Linked DNA regions of Homo sapiens: region 1 is reported to be linked to region 2. Evidence: microRNA targets listed by miRTarBase, many of them from high-throughput screens and not tested one by one. Region 2 holds a microRNA gene; the other region holds the end of a gene's coding sequence.
What was found. The annotated mature microRNA hsa-miR-7155-3p reads UGGCCCAAGACCUCAGACC and lies in region 2 at 1,983-2,001, shown strand. An mRNA with a match to its seed (bases 2 to 7 or 8) in the 3' UTR can be bound and repressed. Matches are read on the target gene's strand: a 7mer-m8 pairs with bases 2 to 8, a 7mer-A1 pairs with bases 2 to 7 and ends in A, and an 8mer does both.

Region 1 (3,390 bases), not on the chromosome of region 2:
ATGAGCAACAAGACTCGGGATGAACTGGAAAGAAGTTTTGATTGTTGTGGCTTATTCAACCTCACAACCCTGTATCAACAAGATTATGATTTCTGCACTGCAGTGAGTGTGTTGGGGGTGGTGCAGCAGCCAGGGGAGGTAGGAAACTGGGTAAGGACAATGCCCAAGTTGGCAAATTTAGTTTGAATGTCATTGTTTCTCTCTCTACAAGCCCTCTTGTATTGGGGCTGTGTTGGTGGGAGGTGGGGGTGGATAGAGGCTGGGGAATTAGCCAAGTAGGATTTTAGTTTGTAGGACACTGGTCAGATAACAGTAAAGTTTCTAGGGACATTCGGCATAGGTATTAGTCACTAGCAACTTTACATTCACAACTTTGCATTCTTCACGTTTTATCCTCAGATCTGCAAGAGCCAGAGCCCCACATGCCAGATGTGTGGAGAAAAGTTTCTTAAGCATTCAGACGAAGCCCTGAAAATCCTAGGGGGTGTTGGACTCTTCTTTAGCTTTACAGAGGTAACATTCTCCAGTTCCCTCACACACATCCTTTTTGAGACTGAGAATTAATTGATACTTATCTCTCTCCCTTTGTTCCTACAGATCCTTGGTGTTTGGCTAGCAATGAGATTTCGGAATCAGAAGGATCCTAGAGCCAACCCCAGTGCCTTTCTATGAGACTTTGGATCCTTCTGACTTTTCTTCTGCTCTCTCTAAGCTTTCTCTTCCTCCCTTAGGGAATATCTAGGGTCTGTAACCGTTTTGGTTTGAGAAAAAGGAAAGGCCCCTTGTCACATCCTCTAAAATTGATGGAATAGCAAGACTTTATGCCTTGACATATTTTAGTGGGAGCCAGACTATAAGGAATAAAAGGAAAAACTTTCTTCCTCTCTCTCCAAGAGGATATGGGAAGCTTCTGTGAGTGCATAGGATGGGGGCTGGAGTCATTCTTAGCTGTTTCCCTTCCTCTGTCCATATACTGGATCACCTCAACATACCCTGGTGTGGCTCTAAGGGTAAATCAGGGATAGGGCCAAGGAGAAAACAACCAAGAACTCTTTCCTGTAATAAGCAGGATCCAGTTTGAGAAAGTTTAGCGAATATAAAAGTAAAAGCCATTTAAAAATCTATATTCTTTTTTTTTTTTTGACACAGAGTCTTGCTCTGTTGCCCAGGCTGGAGTGCAATGGCATGATCTCGGCTCACCGCAACCTCTGCCTCCCGGGTTCAAGCGATCCTCCTGCCTCAGTCTCCCAAGTAGCTGGGATTACAGGTGTGCACCACCACGCCTGACTAATTTTGTATTTTTAGTAGAGACAGGGTTTCACCATGTTAGTCAGGCTGGTCTCGAACTCCTGACCTCAGGTGATCCACCCGCGTTGGCCTCCCAACGTGCTGGGATTATAGGCGTGAGCCACCACGCCCCGCCTAAAATCCATATTCAAAGAAGCAATTTCAGTTCCTTTCTAAGCTTTGTCAGTCAAGGGGCTCCACTGACTTCCTAGGCCCTGTAATTTAACCAGTCTTTAAGGTTTTGCAGGAAAGTCCCTTCTTCCAAGTGGTTTTTCCAAATCGCACAATGGCAAAGCCAAACAGAGGAAGAAACATTAAAAAAAAAAAAAAGACCATTATTTCTTTGTTTTGTTTTTCCTGTATAAAAAAGGACCCCAAATATAAAGGTAGGGAAAGGGACAAGAGGGAACATACCCCTTAGTGTAGAGAAATGGGAAGGAGAAGGAGAAGCCTCAAAAGGAGAGGTGGGAGGGGAATGTCATTAAGGCAGCAAAGTAATCTCTGTAGAAAGATGGAGGAGGACCCTCCATAGCCTCAGAGATAAAGGCAAAGATTGCCCTCTCAGTGTCCAGAAGGGAAATGGCAGCTTTTCTTCCTTCCATGGCAGCCACTCCATTGCTCACTCCGGATTACCTTCATCCTTATGTAGATAAGAGTGCTGCAGAGCTCGAAAGGCAGAGATTCGCTTGTGTGGGTTAAAAGTCAGCATTTCCTGAGGGGAGAGGCAAAGGTCAGAAAACCATGAAGAAAACAGACTTCTGCCCACCCACAACAATACCTGGGATGAGCTTTCTTCTTTTTTCTTTTTTTTTTTTTTTGAGACGGAGTCTCGCTCTATCACCCAGGCTGGAGTGCAATGGTATGATCTCAGCTCACTGCAACCTCCGCCTCCTGAGTTGAAGTGATTCTCCTATCTCAGCCTCCCAAGTAGCTGAGATTACAGGCGTGTGCCACCACCCCCGGCTTATTTTTGTACTTTTAGTAGAGACGAGGTTTCACCATGTTGGCCAGGCTGGTCTCGAACTCCTGACCTCAGGTGATACGCCCACCTTGGCCTCCCAAAGTGCTGGGATTACAGGCGTGAGCCACCGTGCCCAGCCAGGATGGGTTCTCTTCTATATCCTTCTCTGTGGGTGGCTATTTGCAGCTGTAATAAAAACTACAGCCCATCTACCAACCAAGTTTCATTAACCACAGTGGCCAGGGCCCTGCATACTGCTCTATTTCTTTCCCCAGTCTCTATTTCTTTCCCTGTGCCCACAGCCATCTCCAGTACCAGCAGCAGCTGTGCTCCCGACTCCTCCATCTCAGGTACCACCGACTGCACTGGGCGGGGCCCTCTGGGGGGAAAGGCTCCACGGGGCAGGGATACATCTCGAGGCCAGTCATCCTCTGGAGGCAGCCCAATCAGGCTGTGGGGGACAGGAGAACTCTGGTCAGGAGGGTCCTCCAGTTCCCATCCCCATGGGCAGAGCCAGTTGCCATCCTGGGTTCAGCAGAAAGAGGACTCAGAATAGAAAATCTTTTTCTCCCATGTTGGTCACTTACTCAAAGATTTTGCCCAACTGGTCGGCTTCAGAGTTTCCACAGAAGAGAGGCCTAAGGTGAGAAGGGATATAAGGTAGCAGTCATTTTCAAAGATATCTTAGTTGAATGGTTACTGCTTAGTGGCTCAAAATAGGAAGTATAGGGAATAAAGGCCAACAATTCCAGCACTTTGGGATGCTGAGGTGAGAGGACTGCTTGAGCCCAGGAGTTCTAGATCAGCCTGGGCAAGCAAGACCTTGTCTCTTTTTTTAAAAAAAAAGAAATGCCAGGTGCAGCGGCTCACGCCTGTAATCCTAGCACTTTGGGAGTCTGATGTGGGTGGATCATGAGGTCAAGAGATCGAGACCATCCTGGCCAACATGGTGAAACCCTGTCATTACTAAAAGTACAAAAATTAGCTGAGCATGGTGGCGTGCACCTGTGGTCCCAGCTACTTGGGAGGCTGAGTCAAGAGAATTGCTTGAATCTGGGAGGTGGAGGTTGCAGTGAGCAGAGATCGCACTACTGCACTCCAGCCTGGCGACAGAGCAAGACTCCATCTAAAAAAAAAAAAAG
Region 2 (3,390 bases):
GGGTCCGAAGCCGCCCAGCCTCTGCCTCCCTCACCTCATCTTGCAGCGAGGGGGCCGCTCCTGCTAGGGGTGCTGAGGATGAGAGATGAGGTCAGGACCCCTCCTTTACTGCCTGGCTCCTCACATACACACCCCAGAGGCTTGGGAGAAGGGAGGGAGTCAGAGGCTCTCCCCAGTACACTGCTGGAAAGCATAGGAAGCCCCCACCCCAGCCCTTCCAGTGGGGTCCCTCACCCTCCCCAGGGGATCCTGGAGGTGGCTCCAAGCTCCGCTGAAGCTCCAGCTCCAGCTCCACATTCTCCTCAGCCAGCTGGTCCACCTGATGCCGCAGAGAGTCCAGCTCCTGGGGGTGAGGGAAGGGTCAGACAAGCCCTCCACACCATGGCCAGGCCGAGTGTGTAGGTCGGAGGGTCACTAGAGGTCACCAAGAGCAGAGGTTGCAAGAATCACTAGGGACCACTAGGGAATCAATGGGGTCATGGGGTGACGGGGCAACCCAAGTGGGATCACTCTGGCTACCTTACCGCATGGGCCTCGCCCAGCCGGGTTCGCAGCAGCAGGTTCTCGCGCTGGGTCTCGTGCAGCCGGGCGCAGCGCTCTCGGGCAGCCTCCAGCTGCTCTTCCAGCAGCGCCTTGGACGCCTCCAGCACCCCCGAGAGCACCCGCTCCTCCTGGTGGGAGAGCAGGGAGAACCGGTAGCCACGCAGCCCCCATGCACTCCAGCGCCTGAGGGTCCCAAACTCCTTCCCCTCAGCCTGTCACAGACCCTGCCTCCCTCCCCCACCCTGCACCCCATCAGTCTCTAGGCCCCGCCACTCCCTTCCATCTTCTTCCCACCAAGATCTCTTCAGGTACTTTCTCCCTCGCCCCTGGCCCCGCCCTTTGTGCAGGCCCCGCCCTTCTGTCCATGCCCCGCCCCTCCCCCCCGGGAACAGCCCTCCTTCCAAGGCTGCATCACTTACACAGCCCCCCCACTCCCCTACACCTGCCCCATCCTCTGGAGGCCCTTTCCCAGACGCCACCTCCCTGAATTTGTCCTCACCCATTTCTCCACCTGTGACTGTCCCCTCCAGAGAACCTGCCTCTCTGCCCTCGGGACCCAATCTCGCCCCTCCTCCTGGCCCGCCCCCTCGCGCACGCCCCGCCCCGCGGCTCCGTCTCCGCCTCACCTCCAGCTGACTCTTGTAGGCCTCAGCCGCCTGCAGCCGCTCGCGGCAGCGCCTCAGCTCCTCCTGCAGGCGGGGCAGGCGGCCGGCCCGCTCCCGCAGCGCCTCTGCCTCCTCGCGGTACAGCTCGGCCCGCTTGGCCTGTCCCGACAGCGCCTGGGCCTGGGCCAGACGGTGTGGAGCTGGGAACAGCCAGCCGCGGGCCAGAGGGATTAGGGACGGGAAGGAGCCGGGTTGGGAGGGAGGCAATGGGACCGGGTGCGGGGAGGTTAGGGAATGCCGCGGTGGCGGGGAGCATGTGAGCGCACCTCCTGGCGGAGCCTTCTTATTTCGGCCTCCAAACCCTGCACCTCGGCCTGGGAGTCTAGCAGCAGCTCGGCCTTCTCCTCCCTGGAGGGAAGGGGAGTCTAGGGAGGGTCTGGGGGCCCACAACCCCCAGCCCTTCCCAGGCCTGACCCCTCCCGTAGCCACCAGGGCTAGGGTCCCATCCAGGCTTAATCTGCCCCTCTCCACTCAGTCCCCTTCCCAGGCTGCGCACACTCACAGCTCCTGCCGCAGACGCCGCAGCTGAGCCTTGGCGTTGGCCAGCTGCAGGGCCAGATGGTGCGAGGGGCCCTCGGCGGGAGCCCTAGAGGGAGCCTCAGGCCTCAAGCAGAGGGGTTCTCGCTCCAGCAGCAGTTCAGCCAGCCGCTGTAGGTCAGGGGTCAAGGGTCAGGACTAACTTATCCAATGCCTCTGCACATCGACCCCCAACCACAACACCAGACATGGGGTTGTGGTCTGGGGTCTTGGGCCATCTGGTTGTGACATCACTGATGGCCCAAGACCTCAGACCACAACCCCATGCCTGGGCCCCAAACTTCCATCTCCCTTGCACAACCGGCTCCCTGATGGTCCTCCAGTTCCCCAACCTGAGTCCACGATGCCCCTGCTGCCCCTACCTGGGCCCCCAGGTCACGCTCCCGTGCCAGCTTCGACAGTGTCCCCATCAGGCTCCGGGACAGCATCTCCAGCTCGGCAGGTGCCAGCTCCCCAGGATCTGGCCCAGACAGTGCCAGCACCACGCCGGCCCCCGGCTGGGTCACCTGGGGCGCAGGAAGAGCAGTTCAGTGGAAGCCGCGGTGTGGCAAGGGCGTCCCAGGTGCCATACCAGTCTGGGCTGCCGAACCGTCTCAGTACCTCCTGGATGGCAGCGGCCAGCTCGCTCTGGACCTCGAGACTGAGGCCCTGGATGTGGCGGATGAAGAGTTCCCGGTGCTCACACTGAGGGGAGACAGGAAGGGGAGCTGGTGCAGGATCTCCCTCCTCTACCGCCAAAGCTCGACCCTAACCTTTCCTTCCCACCGCCGGCTCACCTGTACTGACGCTCCCAACAGTAGCCGAAGAACGCCTTCCAGCTGCTCCACCGCTTCTTCTGCAAGGCACATGCCACAAGGGGTTAACTGGGGCGGGGAAGGTAGAGTAGTGCGGGGGCAGAGGCAGGAGGGTGTGGGTGGGGAGAGCACCTGAGAGAGGGTCAAATCCCAATGTCTGGAGGTCTGGGGGTGGCGACAGGATCAGCAGCTGCAGCTCCTCCTGGAGGCAGAGAGGCAGACTATATGAGGCGCCTTCCCGAAGGGGCTCCTCTTCCCCTCCTGTCTCCGCCTTTCCCTCGAGACCCCTTACCTGGTAGAAGTCCCTCAGTCGGCCCCACAGGTGGTTCAGGTTCCACACTCGCCAGGCAGCAGGTCCGTCAAGGCCTCTGAGCATCCGAGGTCCCCCTCGGGAGCTGGGGGCACTATGAGCCGGAGGTGGGCTCGAGGACCCGCCTCCCGTCAACAGGCCTCGCCCACCGTCCCTCAGGCCCCGCCCACTGAGCATCAGGCTCCGCCCACCCGCTTCCCCTCCTCTCAGATCCTTCCCCGCCACCGCCCCGGCCCGATGCCCCTTACATGATGCCCAGCACCCGGAGGAGCAGGGCCCCATCGCTGAGGCGCAGGAATCTCTTCTCCAACCAAAGGGGCGGCTCTTCCTCCTCTTCCTCTTCTTCCCCCTCCGAGTCCTCCGCCTCCCCGACCAGCCCGGCCAGTCCCAGCGCCTGTGAGGAGCCCAGAGGGGTCAGCCGACCAGCAGAGTGAACCCTGAGCCCCTCCGACCTGCCCCAGTGAGCCCAAGCACCCCTTCTCACCCGTCCTCTGAGTGCCTCTGTCCCCTCTTCCCTCACCACAGCCCCCCACACCATATC

Region 1: miRTarBase lists TSPAN31 as a target of hsa-miR-7155-3p. The part of its 3' UTR that is shown has no 7-base or 8-base seed match.

Annotation. Positions count from the first base shown.
Region 1 is chr12:57,746,619-57,750,008 of GRCh38, forward strand. TSPAN31 (tetraspanin 31) reads left to right here. Exons shown (of 6, transcript NM_005981.5): 4 at 1-102; 5 at 400-513; 6 at 598-3,390. The coding sequence ends at 672. It overlaps CDK4 (cyclin dependent kinase 4), which reads right to left. Exons shown (of 8, transcript NM_000075.4): 6 at 2,836-2,886; 7 at 2,564-2,699; 8 at 1,109-1,999. The coding sequence ends at 1,907. It overlaps MIR6759 (microRNA 6759), which reads right to left and starts at 2,064; the gene lies at 2,000-2,064.
Region 2 is chr11:64,340,460-64,343,849 of GRCh38, reverse strand. It overlaps MIR7155 (microRNA 7155), which reads left to right and starts at 1,946; the gene lies at 1,946-2,001. It overlaps CCDC88B (coiled-coil domain containing 88B), which reads right to left. Exons shown (of 27, transcript NM_032251.6): 2 at 3,098-3,243; 3 at 2,832-2,943; 4 at 2,672-2,741; 5 at 2,522-2,580; 6 at 2,346-2,429; 7 at 2,108-2,251; 8 at 1,711-1,856; 9 at 1,475-1,556; 10 at 1,170-1,328; 11 at 525-671; 12 at 235-343; 13 at 1-72. LOC102723878 (a long non-coding RNA gene) reads left to right here and starts at 3,058. Exons shown (of 4, transcript NR_188518.1): 1 at 3,058-3,309. RefSeq lists silencers at 799-1,093, 2,958-3,007, 3,028-3,107.